2 linked regions of the Homo sapiens genome follow. The protein of the gene in region 1 interacts with the protein of each later gene in a pairwise test. Each region holds a gene or a part of one and is shown in the gene's direction. Other genes may lie near its edges.

Region 1 (7,009 bases):
CCACTGGGCTATCCCAACACCAATAGCTATTATGATTATGATTATTTTTTCCATTTTATTGATGAGGAAACCAACACATAGAAAGGTAAAGGAACTTGCCAAAGGTGACGGTCACACAGCCAAAGAGCTGTAGAAGCAGCACAGGAATACCAGCAAACTCACAGCCAAGCTCTGCTTTTCACCTTCACATCATACAGTCCTCAGACTAAAACCCTAACTCTGACCTTCCAAATCAAAAATCATACTCAAGGCCGGGTGCGGCGGCTCATGCCTATCATCTCAGCACTTTGGGAGGCCGAGGCAGGTGGATCACCTGAGGTCAGGAGTTCCAGACCAACCAGGCCAACATGGTGAAACCCCATCTCTACTAAAAATACAAAACTTAGCCAGGCGTGGTGGTGGGTGTCTGTAATCCCAGCATTTTGGGAGGCTGATGCATGAAAATCACTTGAACCCAGGAGGCAGAAGTTGCAGCGATCCATGATCATGCCACTGCACTCCAGCCTGGGCAAGAGAGTAAGACTCTGTCTCAAAAAAAAAAAAATTGCCTAATAATAGCTTGGAAGTGCACATGTCTTCTGTGAAGGTTGATGGACTACAATTAGCTTCAAAACACAAATAAGTAACTGTGTTTAAATGAGGCCTTCTGTGTAATATCTAGGGAAAATCAATGTGGCTATTCAAATTTGTTTCCCCTTCCAAGCACAGAGAAGTTGCTCATGACTCTGTGATCCGTTTTGTCCAATGAACCATGAGCAGCAGCAGCAACTTGAGTCACCTCCAGGTGGAAGTGTTAAGAGGCTCTATGATCCACCACATTCCGTTTCCCCTGAAGGGTGATCAAGGACACATGCAGAGATGGGGCTTTTGTCAGCCTGGATCCCTGAGTGAACACAATGAACAGACCACCACACAATGCCCTAACACAGCCCAGACATGCAACGTGACCAAGAATAAGCCTCACTGTGGCCAGGCATGGTGGCTCATGCCTGTCATCCCAGAACTTTGGGAGGCCAAGGCGGGTGGATCATTTGAGGTCAGGAGTTCAAGACCAGCCTGGCTAACATGGTGAAATCCTGTCTCTACTAAGTACAAAAATTAGCCAGACAGTGGTGGCATGGGCCTGTAATCCCAGCTACTCAGGAGGCAGGAGAATCACTTGAGTCTGGGAGGCAGAGGTTGCAGTGAGCTGAGATTGCACCACTGCACTCTAGTCTGGGTGACAGAGTGAGACCCTGTCTCAAAAACAAACAAATACCTCACTGCATGGAGCCACTGAGATTTGGGGATTGTCGTTACTGCACCAGAACCCAAATCATCCTGACCGCTAGGGTGTCCTAACTAGGGTTTCTTCCCAAAAGCAAAGGCATTTTTAAAGTTCGTGACATTTAAACAAAAGAGCAAATACCAATATCTACCACTTCGTCAGGCTAACAAACCCAAACAAAGCCAACAGCCAGAAGTTAAAATAAACAGATCATTAGGTTGAAAATAGAACTGTCAAAACAGGCACAATTGACTTCATTTAGTGATTGCAAAGAACATCAGGCAAGACACACGTGTGGTCATCATAACATTTATCACATGCTTAATTGCACATGTTTGACTAAGAAAAACACAAAGTATTTAAGCTCATCTGTAGTTCAAAGTGCCTATCCGTGTATTTATCTATTCATCCTGATGTATTTATTGAGCAACTCTTTTGTGCCAGGCACTGTGCTGTGTTGCGGGAAGTCAGGGACCCCAAACGGAGGGACCAGCTGAAGCCATGACAGAAGAACGTGGATTATGAAGATTTTATGGACATTTATTAGTTCCCCAAATTAATACTTTTGTAATTTCTTATGCCTGCCTTCACTGCAATCTCTAAACATAAATTGTAAAGATTTCATGGACTAAACTTATCACTTCCCTAATCAATACCCTTGTGATTTCCTATGCCTGTCATTACTTTAATCTCTTAATCCTGTCAGCCGAGAAGGATGTATATCGTCTCAGGACCTGTAATAATTGCGTTAAGTACACAAATTATACAGCATGTGTGTTTGAGCAATATGAAATGTGGGCACCCTGAAAAAAGAACAGGATAACAGCAATTGTTCAGGGAATAAGAGAGATAACCTTAAACTCTGACCGCCGGTGAGCCAGGCAGAACAGAACCATATTTCTCTTCTTTCAAAAGCAAATGGGAGAAATATCGCTGAATTCCTTTTCTCAGCATGGAACGTCCCTGAGAAAGAGAATGCGCACCTAGGGGTAGGTCTCTAAACTGGCCCCCCGGGGCGTACCTGTCTCTTATGGTCGAGACTGCAGAGGTGAAATAAACTCCAGTCTCCCATAGCACTCCCAGGCTTATTAGGAAGAGAAAATTCCCACCTAATAAACTTTGGTCAGACCGGTTGATCTCAAAACCCTGTCTCCTGATAAGATGTTATCAATGACAATGGTGCCAAAACTTCATTAGCAATTTTAATTTCACCTTTTGCATCTCCTTGAAATGTCTGCCTTTGCACACTCTCCCTGAAAGAGGAGGGCAAGGGAGCCAGGATAGAAAGTGAGGTGGAGAAGTGTAGAGCTCTGGACGGACAAGCAGGAGATACGCAGCACAAGGAAGCACACTAGGTAACACACCAAGCAGGGGAACCTGTCTTTCACTACATAGGCAAGATGCTACGGGAAATGGGCTCTGGGTTTACACAGATTATGACTCAGTTCTCTACTGTTGTGAAGCTGTGTTTGGATAAATCCCTCAACTTTTCTGAGTCTTATTTTTTCATTTGTAAAATGTAGATAGAAGACCTACTTTCCCACATTGCTCTCAGGTTTAAAGTACGTCAATTAGGATACAGCAAAGTCTGTTTGATACTGAAAACTTTCCAGCAACAATGAACCTTAGAACAAGTCATCTCTCATCTTTGCTCTTGCCTGTAACTACTAAGCGACTACTCCATCTTCTGTTCTTAGGGATTTTAAATTGTTGACGTTTTTGATTTAGTCAGGAATGCGTTGTATGGGGATATCAAACCTGCATGCTCTCCAAGCATTGACTGTAGTCTGATCTTAGTAGGTCGTGCACATATAATTTTACTATTTCTCAATTTATTTCGGTGCTGATGTAATTAGTAAAATACGATTTAAGAGTGTTATGATACTTTTTAAAAATCGTGATGTCTTTTCTTCATCAAAGAGATACTTAAAAGCACATAATCATCTTGTGGAGGCAAGTTGACAAAATCCTTTTTGAGATTCTAAAAGGAATCTTTGTACTTAAAATGTTTAAGGACCACTGATGTATTTTGGCTTCATGTATCAATTAGATTTAGATTTTATTGTTTTAGAGATGGGGGTCTCCCTTTGTCGCCCAGGCTGGAGTTGAGCTCACCTCAGCCTCAAACGCCTGGGCTCAAACTATCCTTCTGCCTCAGCCTCCTGAGTTGCTGGGACTACCATGGTGTGCCACCAATTTTTATAGAGATGTGATCTCGCTGTGTTTCCCAGGCTGGTCTTGAACTCCTGGTTTCAAGTGATCCTCTTGCCTTGGCTTCCCAAAGTGTTGGGATTACAGGCGTGAGCCACCGCTCCTGGCCCCGATTTATTAATAGATCTTATAAGGACATTTTAGGCCTCACGCATCAGTTTCTTAGGACAAGCTTTTCTCTGCACTGCATAATAAATCAGACGGCAGTGCAACAAAAAAACGGTGATGATTTCCCGAAGAACAAACCAAGTTCAGAAGCCTCCCTAATTGTCAGAACAGCAGGTAGCCTGGGCGGAGCTCTGAGGCTATCCTTAAACAGGCGCACTGAGACGCAAGGCGCTGGAAACAAAAGAGCTCCTCCTTGCGCCCTTCCGCCGCCCCACTTAGTCCTGCTCCGCCCCGGACACCCCGCGGCCCCGCCCCTGTGCGCGCTGGTTGGTCCTCGCAGGCATGATGAAACTTCCCGCACGCGTTACAGGAGCCAGGTCGGTATAAGCGCCAGCGGCCTCGCCGCCCGTCAAGCTGTCCACATCCCTGGCCTCAGCCCGCCACATCACCCTGACCTGCTTACGCCCAGGTGAGCCGGGTCCTGCGCCCCGTGCCCTGCGCCCCGCGCCAGCATCCTCCTCGCGTGCCCTGGGGCTGCTCCGGAAGGAAGGGGTGGAGGATGCGGTCTTCAGCCTGGCACCCGGCAGACGCGGTTCGCGGGCGCCTGCTGATGCTGCGGCTCCTGCGGTAGGGAGGGCGGGGCGGACGCCTAGCGATTGTTACGCACCTGACAGCTAGCGGAAGGACCTTTCTGTCCTGGTTCCCTGAAGCATCGAGAGGGAACCGCGGCCGGCAGGCCGGACCGCTCCGGAGAGGAGGCAGCGGCAGTTTGAGCCCCTGTAAATGTTATATGTGTACTTTTTTTTACTATGTGGCGTCGAAGCCTGTGGACATTTTCGCGGTCCGGGTCCCTGCGGCGGACGGGTCGGATCGTGCTCGTGGCCAGGGCGCAGTCAGGTGTCGCGTGGTCCTGATCTAGGAAGAGACTGCGGCCTTATCACCGTCTCGGTGTCTGCTTTCACCTTCAACTGCCCCCCTCCTCACCTGGACCGCTCACCCTCCTCCTCCCCTCTCACCCCGCCATCCCCACCAGTCCCCACCTGTCTCTGTAGACTGCAAGACTCATCAAGTGACTTGCTGAGCAAACCCTGCCGAGAAGAGGTCTGTTTAGGGACACAGGCGACCAAGTACAGAAAAAGGCAAAAGAACTAGCATGCCTTTTTCAATGGCTGTCATTTTGCAGGGCTGGCTTCAGATGATTGTTATAGCTTTAAATAAAAAGGACAGTTTTCATCTCGGCCCGTGGCCTACATTATTTCTTTACTGTCCATTGCCCTGGGCGCTTGACTAATAATTTAACAGCAGTTTTTTTTTTTAAATTTTAAATCATGATTCATAGCATTGCTGTAAGAGTAATTAGAGGTAAAGTAGGGCTTGAACCTGTCTGTAGTTGGTTACTTACTGAGATCTTAATATAAAAGTAAAGGGAGAGGGTGAAGTTGTAAGTAGCACTAAGTGGAATAGAAATTAAATGCACTGAAACTGCCATGTCCAGTTCGGTAGGCGCTAGCCACCTGTAACTGTTGAGCACTTGAAGTGCTGGCTAGTCCTAACTGAGATGTATTGTGTTAAATACACTGGATTTTGTCGTTGGAGTAGGAAGAACAGTGTAAAATATCTGCTCGATAATATTTTATATTGATTACATATATGTTAAAATGTTACTATTTGGGACATACTGAGTTAAGTTTATTTAAAATTAATTTCACCTTTTTCTTTTAATGGGGCTACTAGTATATTTAAAATTACATATGTGGCTTACATATATATTTATTGGACAGCACTGTTCTAGAAGTTTAGGAAGAAATAAGAAAAATATTGAGAACAGGTAGCGGCAGTAGGAACTTTGCCCTCCTATAAGACTGATTCCAATAAAAATAATAGGTTATAGTTTTAATTGGCTTTTTCCTACTAGAAAAAATAAGTGTACTTTACATGCCTCTTTGTTCTCCCTTTTTCCCCTCCAGTTTAGTGGTTAGAATGTATTTATTATAGCAGGATTAATACAGGGATTCACTAAGCAGCGTTAAGAAGACTTAGGTAACTGATTCCCTGATGACCATACTTGATTTTCAAAGCACTTTCCTAACCCGTTTTAAATTGATATAGAGTCAAAGGCAGATGGCTTATTAGTAGTCATCTCATTTAAATCTTATGGAATTTTTCCAGTAAATCTCAAATAATTTGTTATAGGCTATTTGGGCTATTTGGTCAAGTGCATGGAAGAGACAGCATAGGACATGTGGTACTTCATTTCCAAATTGCTTGAGATGATTTTCATTCTAACCATATATTATTTGGTTCTGGTTTTCCGGAAAAGCCAGCTAAACCTTTGGTTCTTTTAGATATAAATGAAATATCATCAAAGAATAGCTCAAAGTGACTTATGCAACTTGAATGTATATTTTTTCCTTAGGGTGTTTATCCCAAACTATTTGGGCATTTGCTGCAATTCGCAGTTTTTTTAAAAAAAACACCAAAATAGTTATTTTTCAAGTTAGAGATGTTTTAATTAAAACATCTTGTTTTTGGTGTATCCATTGACATTCTCAAAACGGAATGTATCTGGACCTCTGTGTACAATCTTCGTAGCACTCAGACACTGAACAGAAAGGCAGTCATCACTGCCAAACAGGGCCCAAATGCCACACATGGTGCAATGTGTCATTTTGAGCTGGCAGCAGCCAAATAAAACAGCCCTTTATTTCACAGTTGAGAATTTGAAATTGGAAAGTAATTAACGTATGTAAGGGTGATTTATTTGCTTCCGGGCTTATAGGGATGAGCTAAGTTTTTTATTAGGGATGTTGTTGGTGTATATGTCTCACCTACTTTGCTTCCTTACTGAACAATGCAACTTTGAGACAGAAATATTTGAGAACATTTTTGTCAGTGAGGACATTTTGATAGTGAATATTTTGTATCTTCTATTAACTTGAAATGTTTTATTTGTTATAAAGCCAGGATATCTGATATCAAATTAAATTGTTTTTTTTTTCCCTTTAGATTTTCTTCAATCACATCTGAATAAATCACTTGAAGGTAACCTAGATGTAATATAGTGAAATGCTTGAAAGAGCTGCGTATCTTTTACACTTACAGCAGTATGATTTTCTGTTGTACCCATTATATGGTACCTGCAGCTAGTTCAGATAAAGAGGGCATTTAACTGTCAAGGGAACCTGAGAGGAGACTCTAGTAATCTGGAAAGTCTGTTGGATCTTTGAGGGATTTTGGGATGGTGAGAGTGGGGCTAGGATCTCTGGCTAGGTTGGAGCCAGCCTGCATTTGTATCTGTATCTTGGAAGCAAACTTAGAATGCAGAGACAGATGTGGCATGGACGCTGTCAGCTCTAGCCAACCACTAAATCCTAAGGTGGGAGAGATGCAGGCTTTGGCTAGGTGCTAAGCTGCTGTAGCCGG
Region 2 (7,028 bases), on another chromosome or scaffold:
CAACCTCAGAAAACCACTGAGGCCCTGCAGGTCATGTGAGGGGTGGGCCATCAGCAGATGGAGGCACCTGGTGTGGGTGGGGACGGGGGTGAGAGGCTTTGGTGAACAGAAGAGCAGAGGCACCAAGGCAGCAGCTTTGCAGCTATGGGTTGCTTTCCTGCAGTGGGTGACCAAGGAGGGCAGGTCATGCTGATCAGAAAGGTACACTGCATGACTCAGATGCCACCTGCACCTACCCAGCACCCTCCACGTCCCCACCTGGCCTGTGAATCTTAGACGCCACCTACACCTGCCCAGCACCCTCACATCCTCACCTGGTCTCCTGCGCATCACAGATGCCACCTGCACCCGCCCAGCACCCTCGTACTCACCTGGTCTCCTGCGCATTGCAGATGCCACATGCACCCACCCAGCAACCTTGTCCTCACCTGGTCTCTGGCTGTCCAGAGTTGCTTCCTGTTGACGACAGCTCTCCTCAGGTGCGCTTTTTATCTCCTGTACTGTCACAAAGGAGCTGACCCTCTCCTGGAAGAAAATGTTGATTTTACTTTTCAATCCAGGGGCCACCTCTTTCATTGGTGTGTGCAGCTGACGTTTCATATTACAGAAATCATCTCTGGGCTCACAGCCTACACTCTCTTCCTCATTCTGGTTACTCATTCTTTCTTTTAGGTTGTGTTTTTTTGTAGATGACTTTAAACTATTTCTTTTCATATTAGGTCTGAAATTACTTTTATCCAGTATACCAATTTTTTCCTGATGTTTTAAACCTTGGTTTTTGTTATTTATTTGATAATATCTACTGCTGAAGGAAATCTTAAACTTAGTTTTAGGAAATATGAAGTTAAGTTCTTTCAATTGATTATCTCCTCTTTCCCACTCCCTTGCTCTGGTTCTGCACTTGAAGTTGCATTGCTCCCAGGTAGCGTCATGCTGGGTGTTACCTTAGTGCTTTCCTCGATGCGTGATCTGAGTGACTCCATGGTGCATACACATCATCCTGGGTGTTACCTTTGTGCTTTCCTCGACGCGTGATCCGAGTGACTCCGTGGTGCACACGCGTCATGCTGGGTGTTACCTTAGTGCTTTCCTTGACGCGTGATCTGAATGCTCCGCGGTGCACACGCATCATGCTGGGTGTTACCTTAGTGCTTTCCTTGACACGTGATCTGAGTACTCCGCGGTGCACACGCGTCATGCTGGGTGTTACCCTAGTGCTTTCCTCGACACGTGATCCGAATGCTCCGCGGTGCACGCGCGTCATGCTGGGTGTTACCTTAGTGCTTTCCTTGACACGTGATCTGAGTACTCCGCGGTGCACACGCGTCATGCTGGGTGTTACCCTAGTGCTTTCCTCGACACGTGATCCGAATGCTCCGCGGTGCATGCGCGTCATGCTGGGTGTTACCTTAGTGCTTTCCTCGACGCGTGATCCGAGTGACTCCGTGGTGCACACGCGTCATGCTGGGTGTTACCTTAGTGCTTTCCTCGACGCGTGATCCGAGTGACTCCACGGTGCACATTCACTGCAGCATCTCTGTGTGGCAGTCCTCAGCCTTTAAACTTGACGGATGCATTTAAGTTCACTTCTTAGATTCTCAATAATTCTGTCCCTAGAAGAAAGCCAGCTTCCCTCTACAAGTGCTCTGGGAAAAGGAGAGCAGGTTGAAGTAACATTTCCTGTACTGAGACTTGCACCCTGTGATCTCTCACTCATCCCAAATTCTGCATGTGGATGGTAAGTATCAAAAACTTTGCCTATGCCACATAAAGGAAACCTCTTAAATTCCTTAGATGAACATTAGGTTCATTTTCTAAGAATGACTGAGATAAAACCAAATTATTTTGGTCTCTGATTATTAGTAACTTCATTCTTGGGATTGCATGTTTTAAATCTTAAAGTTGGTAAACTTGGGCAATGATACGTAAGTGTCTTTAATAAAAGGAATTGGATGATTTTTAAGTTTATTACCAAAGTCTAGGCAGATCTTTGCCTCTGTGATACAACTTTTTCTTTAGAAAGAGGAAATGGTGATTGGAATGGCCTAGACTTTCCCATCTACCGCTGTGCTATACATTACACATTTAAAGTTAACCCCAGACTAATTTTATTTATTTCTGTGCTCAGTAGAAATATTATTACATATTTGGCAACATAAGGAAGTACTGTTTAACTGTGATTCAAGAATATATTACAATTATGTTTACTTCTCCTCCCCAAAATGCTTGAGATTAGGGGGCAACCTTGCTTTGAATGGCCTTGGCCGTTGCTTGTCTTTGTCTCTGTGCAGAGCTGCCCCTGGAGCAGAATATTCCCTGCTTGGTCCAAACCACAGAGAGTAAGCAGGGTGGGCATGGAGGCTGGACACGGTGCTCCCGGTGGGTGCATGGACCTGAGGCATTTTGAGGCTTCCCTGGCTTACCTCGAGCAGAGGGAGCCCTCAGAGCTAAGCCAGAGCCACATGACCCATTCTGTTGACGATGGTCGTTGGGTGAACCGTGGACTGGTGCTGGTGGATGCCCAGGAGGAGCCCAGGGTGCTGCCTGGGGCGGAGCTGGAGAGGGGAGGTCTGGAAAGCAGGTTCCAGCTGGGGGCCTCTGCCAAGTCCATGTCCAGCCTCCCTGGAGATGGCTTCTCAGTGTATTAACAGACCCCGTTGGCATTGGTATTAACTCTGCCGCCTCGGGCCAGCTACTTTCCTCCTGGAGTTGGTTCCTTATTCACAGAGGTGGGCAGCTTGTGTGGCCTTCAAGTCTAGTCACTCGGAGGCTACCTGAGCAGTGGCCTTGGCCCAGGCACTGGCACTGACCTTTTCTGTAACCTTAGAAGAAAATAGAAACCACAGAGGTCAGAGCGAGCGTCTTCACAGACATTAGCAGGTGCCCAGGGGATCACCACAAATGCGTTGGTGGCACAGATGTGGCCAGCCTGGCACAGATGTGGTTCTCACTGGCAAGAACCTGCCCCGGCCCACGCTCTCCACTCCTGCGGAGAGCTCACAGCCAGGCCAGGGGGCGCACGTGGGGCCCAACGCCCACGCTCCCCACTCCTGCGGAGAGCTCACAGCCAGGCCAAGGGGCGCACGTGGGGCCCAACGCCCACGCTCCCCACTCCTGCGGAGAGCTCACAGCCAGGCCAGGGGGCGCACGTGGGGCCCAACGCCCACACTCCCCACTCCTGCGGAGAGCTCACAGCCAGGCCAGGGGGCGCACGTGGGGCCCAACCTTCAGGAATAAGATTATTGTGTATTCTTTTCTTTTTTTCCTTAAATCAGTCTTTCTTCTGAGAACACCCGATGTGTGTGGATCGGAAGCTCAGTGGGCTTATTCGTATTTAACCTGGCAAACCTGGAAGTGGAAGCTGCTTTGTATTACAAGGGTAAGATCTTTGATTTCAACGCCATGTAACTGTAATGTTTTCCTTTGACTGGTATGTGGGGTAGTGTAAGTGTTTGTGGAGAAGGCCTTGCCGTGTGAATCTGAGGATGAGATGCTTCAGTCACAACTCAGCATTGAGCACGTGAGCACCTCTGTGCTGCTGGATCCGAAGGACGAGGGCCCTTCCCGGACCCTCGGGCACTCAGCCCTGGAGCCACTCCTTGCCTACATCTGCCAGGCCCTCGCCTGGCACTCCAGGCCGCCCGGGCCCCAGCAGCGTGGAACACCTGCAGGAACACCCTTGGGAAGCCCCTGGATTCTCCACCATCCTTAGAGAGCCTCCCAGAGCCCCAGGCTCGCACAGCGTAAACCCGGCCGAGGCGCACTCCTCTCCAACCCTGGCTCCCTTCCCCAGTTTCTGCCAGCTCCAGAAATGTAGGAATAGTCACCTCCACCCCCACCCCCTCCCCCAAGACCCCCATCTCATCCCCCCACCCCTCCTAACTCCATGGATGCCACCAGCCGCACTCTTTCTGCCCAGGAGCCCAGGCGACTTCTGAAAAGCAGGCTGGATTCCGTCCCTCTCCTCCACTGCAGCAGGGCCTCCTCGGCGGCCTCCCGGGCACTGCTCCTCTCGGTGCCTCCTTTCTAGCCCTGAACGCTCAGACCTCTGTGGGGCTGTGGGATGCATCTGTGTCTTCACACACGCCCTTCCCTTCAGCCGCCCATCCCTGCCCCTCCCCAGCTCAGCCAGGCGCAGCTTCTCCTTGAAAACTCAGCCTTTCCTTCCCCCAAATGGTCACAGCTCTAATTACACATTTCCTTTCTGATCTGGTGCTGGACATGTGGCTTCTCCAGGAGGCTGAGCTGCAGGTCTCAGTCCGAGTCACATCCCAGCCTCAGAGCGGAGCCTGGCATGTGTGACGCTCAGGGCCTGGTGTGTGTGTGGTGTGTGCGCTGGTGTGTGTGTGGCCTGGGGCCTTGTATGTGTGAGGATGTGGTGCACAGCCTGCAAAGTGTGTGGTGGGGCCTGGACTGTGTGTGGTGGGCTCTGGGCTGTGTGTGGTGGGCTCTGGGCAGTGACTCCGTGTGTATGTGCTACCTCCCTCCCCATCATGTTCTTCCTGGTCTTCGCTCAACTGAAGATTTCCAGAGCCTCAGCATCCTGCTGGCCGGATCGTGTGCCCTGAGGAACCGCACTGCGGATCAAAAGGTCAGTCCTGAGACGCGGCCCTCCCTGTCTATGAGACGTGCCTCTGATTTCTTCTTTCTTCAGAGTGATCCTGTAACGACTGGCTGAGTAAACGGGATTTTGTGTGTAAAAACGTTTTAGGAGTGACAGGGCGATGTCGCTGCTATGAGAATGAAGCAGCTGTTAGGATACGTGTGCGGATGCACGTTTCGTCTGCTTTTACTGGGTGGTGTCGCTAACGATGTTGAAACCGCGTCCCTGCAGGTGCTGTGCTTGCTGGCCTCCCTCTTTGGCGGGAAGATTGCCGTGTTGGAGATCAACCCGGCCGCGCTAGTCAGGGCTCAGCAGTGCCCCAGCATGGGGCAGAGCCTCTCGGTGCCAGCCAGGTAGAGTGTCTTCAAGTGTGGAGTGTGTGTGTGTGTTCACCAATAAGTGCCATCTGGATTTCTATGTTCAGAAATAAAGATTAGAAAACTCTGAGCTCTGGCCGGGCGCGGTGGCTCACGCCTATAATCCCAGCACTTTGGGAGGCCGAGGCGGGTGGATCACGAGGTCAGGAGATCGAGACCATCCTGGCTAACATGGTGAAACCCCATCTCTACTAAAAAATACAAAAAACAATTAGCCAGGCATGGTGGCAGGCGCCTGTAGTCCCAGCTAGTCGGGAGGCTGAGGCAGAAGAATGGTGGGAACCCGGGAGGCGGAGCTTGCAGTGAGCTGAGATCGCGCCACTGCACTGCAGCCTGGGTGACAGAGCGAGACTCCATCTCAAAAAAAAAAAAAAAGAAAACTCGGAGCTCTGCCAATGCTATTTGGAAGAAGGTTTTTCGTGCTGTTGCTTCTATCTTGTTGAAAACGAAATAGTTGATAGTTTATTTTAATTGAAACACTATTTCATAATAGAATGTACATTATAAAACAGCGCTTTTATTAAGAATATTTTTTTCCTACAAGGATAAGAATACACTTGACAGTTTTCATTTTCAGATACTGTTATGTCCACAGCTGCAGGAATCAGTCATTTGGAACTGTCTTTAAAGTGTGTGTCACTGAGGCATTTCCATCGTATCGTCGTTTGCGCTCCTAGTTTCATGGGGCTTGTTTCTGTTTCAGCTCCTGTGTCCTACCGACCTCTCCACTGTATCTGGGAATTGCCAAGGAGAAGAGTACCAAGGCTGCTAGTGAACAGCGACGTGGTCAGTACAGGGTGCTGTGAGATCTAAGAATACAAGGCTGATGCGTTCTCATTGTGGTTAGGGCTGCTGCATTGCTTTGCGAATTCTTATGTTAAAATATGCATTCCGTACTTCCTTCCATCCTTCTGTCCTTCATGTCTCTGCCTCTCGTGCGTGTTCCATGTCCGCTGTGGTGGGGAACTTGCTGGGTGCTTCGCCTCCTGAATTGGCCATCACTCATGGGATTCAGCAACGTGCCCAAGACTGACCGCTGTTCCTCTGGTGCCTGTTGCAGTGGGGGTGCAGAGTGGACCTTCAGCAATTACTGATTGTGAGAACATTTTTTTCCCCTTTTTTCTCTGCTGAGGAATTTGAAAGCAGATCCCGAGCGTGTGATTGTACTCCTGCACACTTGAGTGTGCATTTCTGGAACATGTATGTTTTTACCTAGCCACCATGACGTTATATCAAAACCAGTCATTTTTTGGAACCTTGTATTAGCAAGGCCATAATAAATTATTCTTGATTGCCTTGACAATATTTCCTATTGGTTTGTTCTGAGCAGCAGCCAAACAAATCCACATGTTGCATCTTTCAAATATGTATAAATTAACTTTCACTTTAAGATGGTAAACGTCATTATGTTCCCTTTCTTTCAAGGCTCACTGATAATTCTTTTTTCCCTTCAGTGACCAGTCTAACCCTTTAATTGGTCTTGTGAAACCTACTGGACCTCATTTGAAAAACGGAGGCATTTCCGCAGCCGCCTTTCACCTTCTGCCTGGTAGCTGCCTGACTGCTGGGCCTCACCTCCCAGAAGGGCCATCTCCCCGGCCAGCGACCTGGCGACCCCACCCTTGGGCCTCTCCCCGGGCCGGGCTCGGCTAGGCTGGGCTAGGGTTCCTGCGTCAGTCCGTCCTCAGACATGGGCTGTGTCCTTCATGCTCCCACGCAGCCCTTGAGCTTGACTTCGGGGACTTCTGGCCTCTCCCTTCCCTACCAGACTTTTTGAAATCAGGCCTCGAACACCTTCTGTGCCATTCCTGGGTCTCACTGACTGTGTGGTTCTGACCCGCCTTGCAGATCGGGGAGAGCTTTCAGGTGGAAGGCGGGGACTCAGAGCTGAGCCTGGGGCTGGAGCTGTTTGCTTGTTCGTCCTGCCATGGCGGTCCCTGCTGCTGGGGGTTTCCAGCAGGTCCCCCATTCCTCCGCCCTGTTTCCATGAAAGACCCACTGTCGGTGTGAACTGCCCGTCTCCTGCCGGTTTATGCTCTGCTGCCGTC

Evidence for each region.
Region 2: the proteins of ASNS (region 1) and WDR27 interact in binary tests that used the Homo sapiens proteins (3 or more experiments, as listed by UniProt).

The regions. Positions count from the first base shown.
Region 1 is NC_000007.14:97,869,397-97,876,405, reverse strand, and holds the start of ASNS (asparagine synthetase [glutamine-hydrolyzing]), read left to right. Parts: upstream 1-3,997; 5' UTR 3,998-4,055; intron 4,056-4,240; exon of another isoform or gene 4,241-4,687; intron 4,688-6,592; 5' UTR 6,593-6,628; intron 6,629-7,009.
Region 2 is NC_000006.12:169,657,014-169,664,041, reverse strand, and holds part of WDR27 (WD repeat-containing protein 27), read left to right. Parts: intron 1-163; exon of another isoform or gene 164-479; intron 480-1,617; coding exon 1,618-1,738; intron 1,739-3,275; coding exon 3,276-3,379; intron 3,380-4,523; coding exon 4,524-4,591; intron 4,592-4,834; coding exon 4,835-4,956; intron 4,957-5,683; coding exon 5,684-5,766; intron 5,767-5,995; coding exon of another isoform or gene 5,996-6,111; exon of another isoform or gene 6,112-6,280; intron 6,281-6,434; coding exon of another isoform or gene 6,435-6,454; exon of another isoform or gene 6,455-7,028.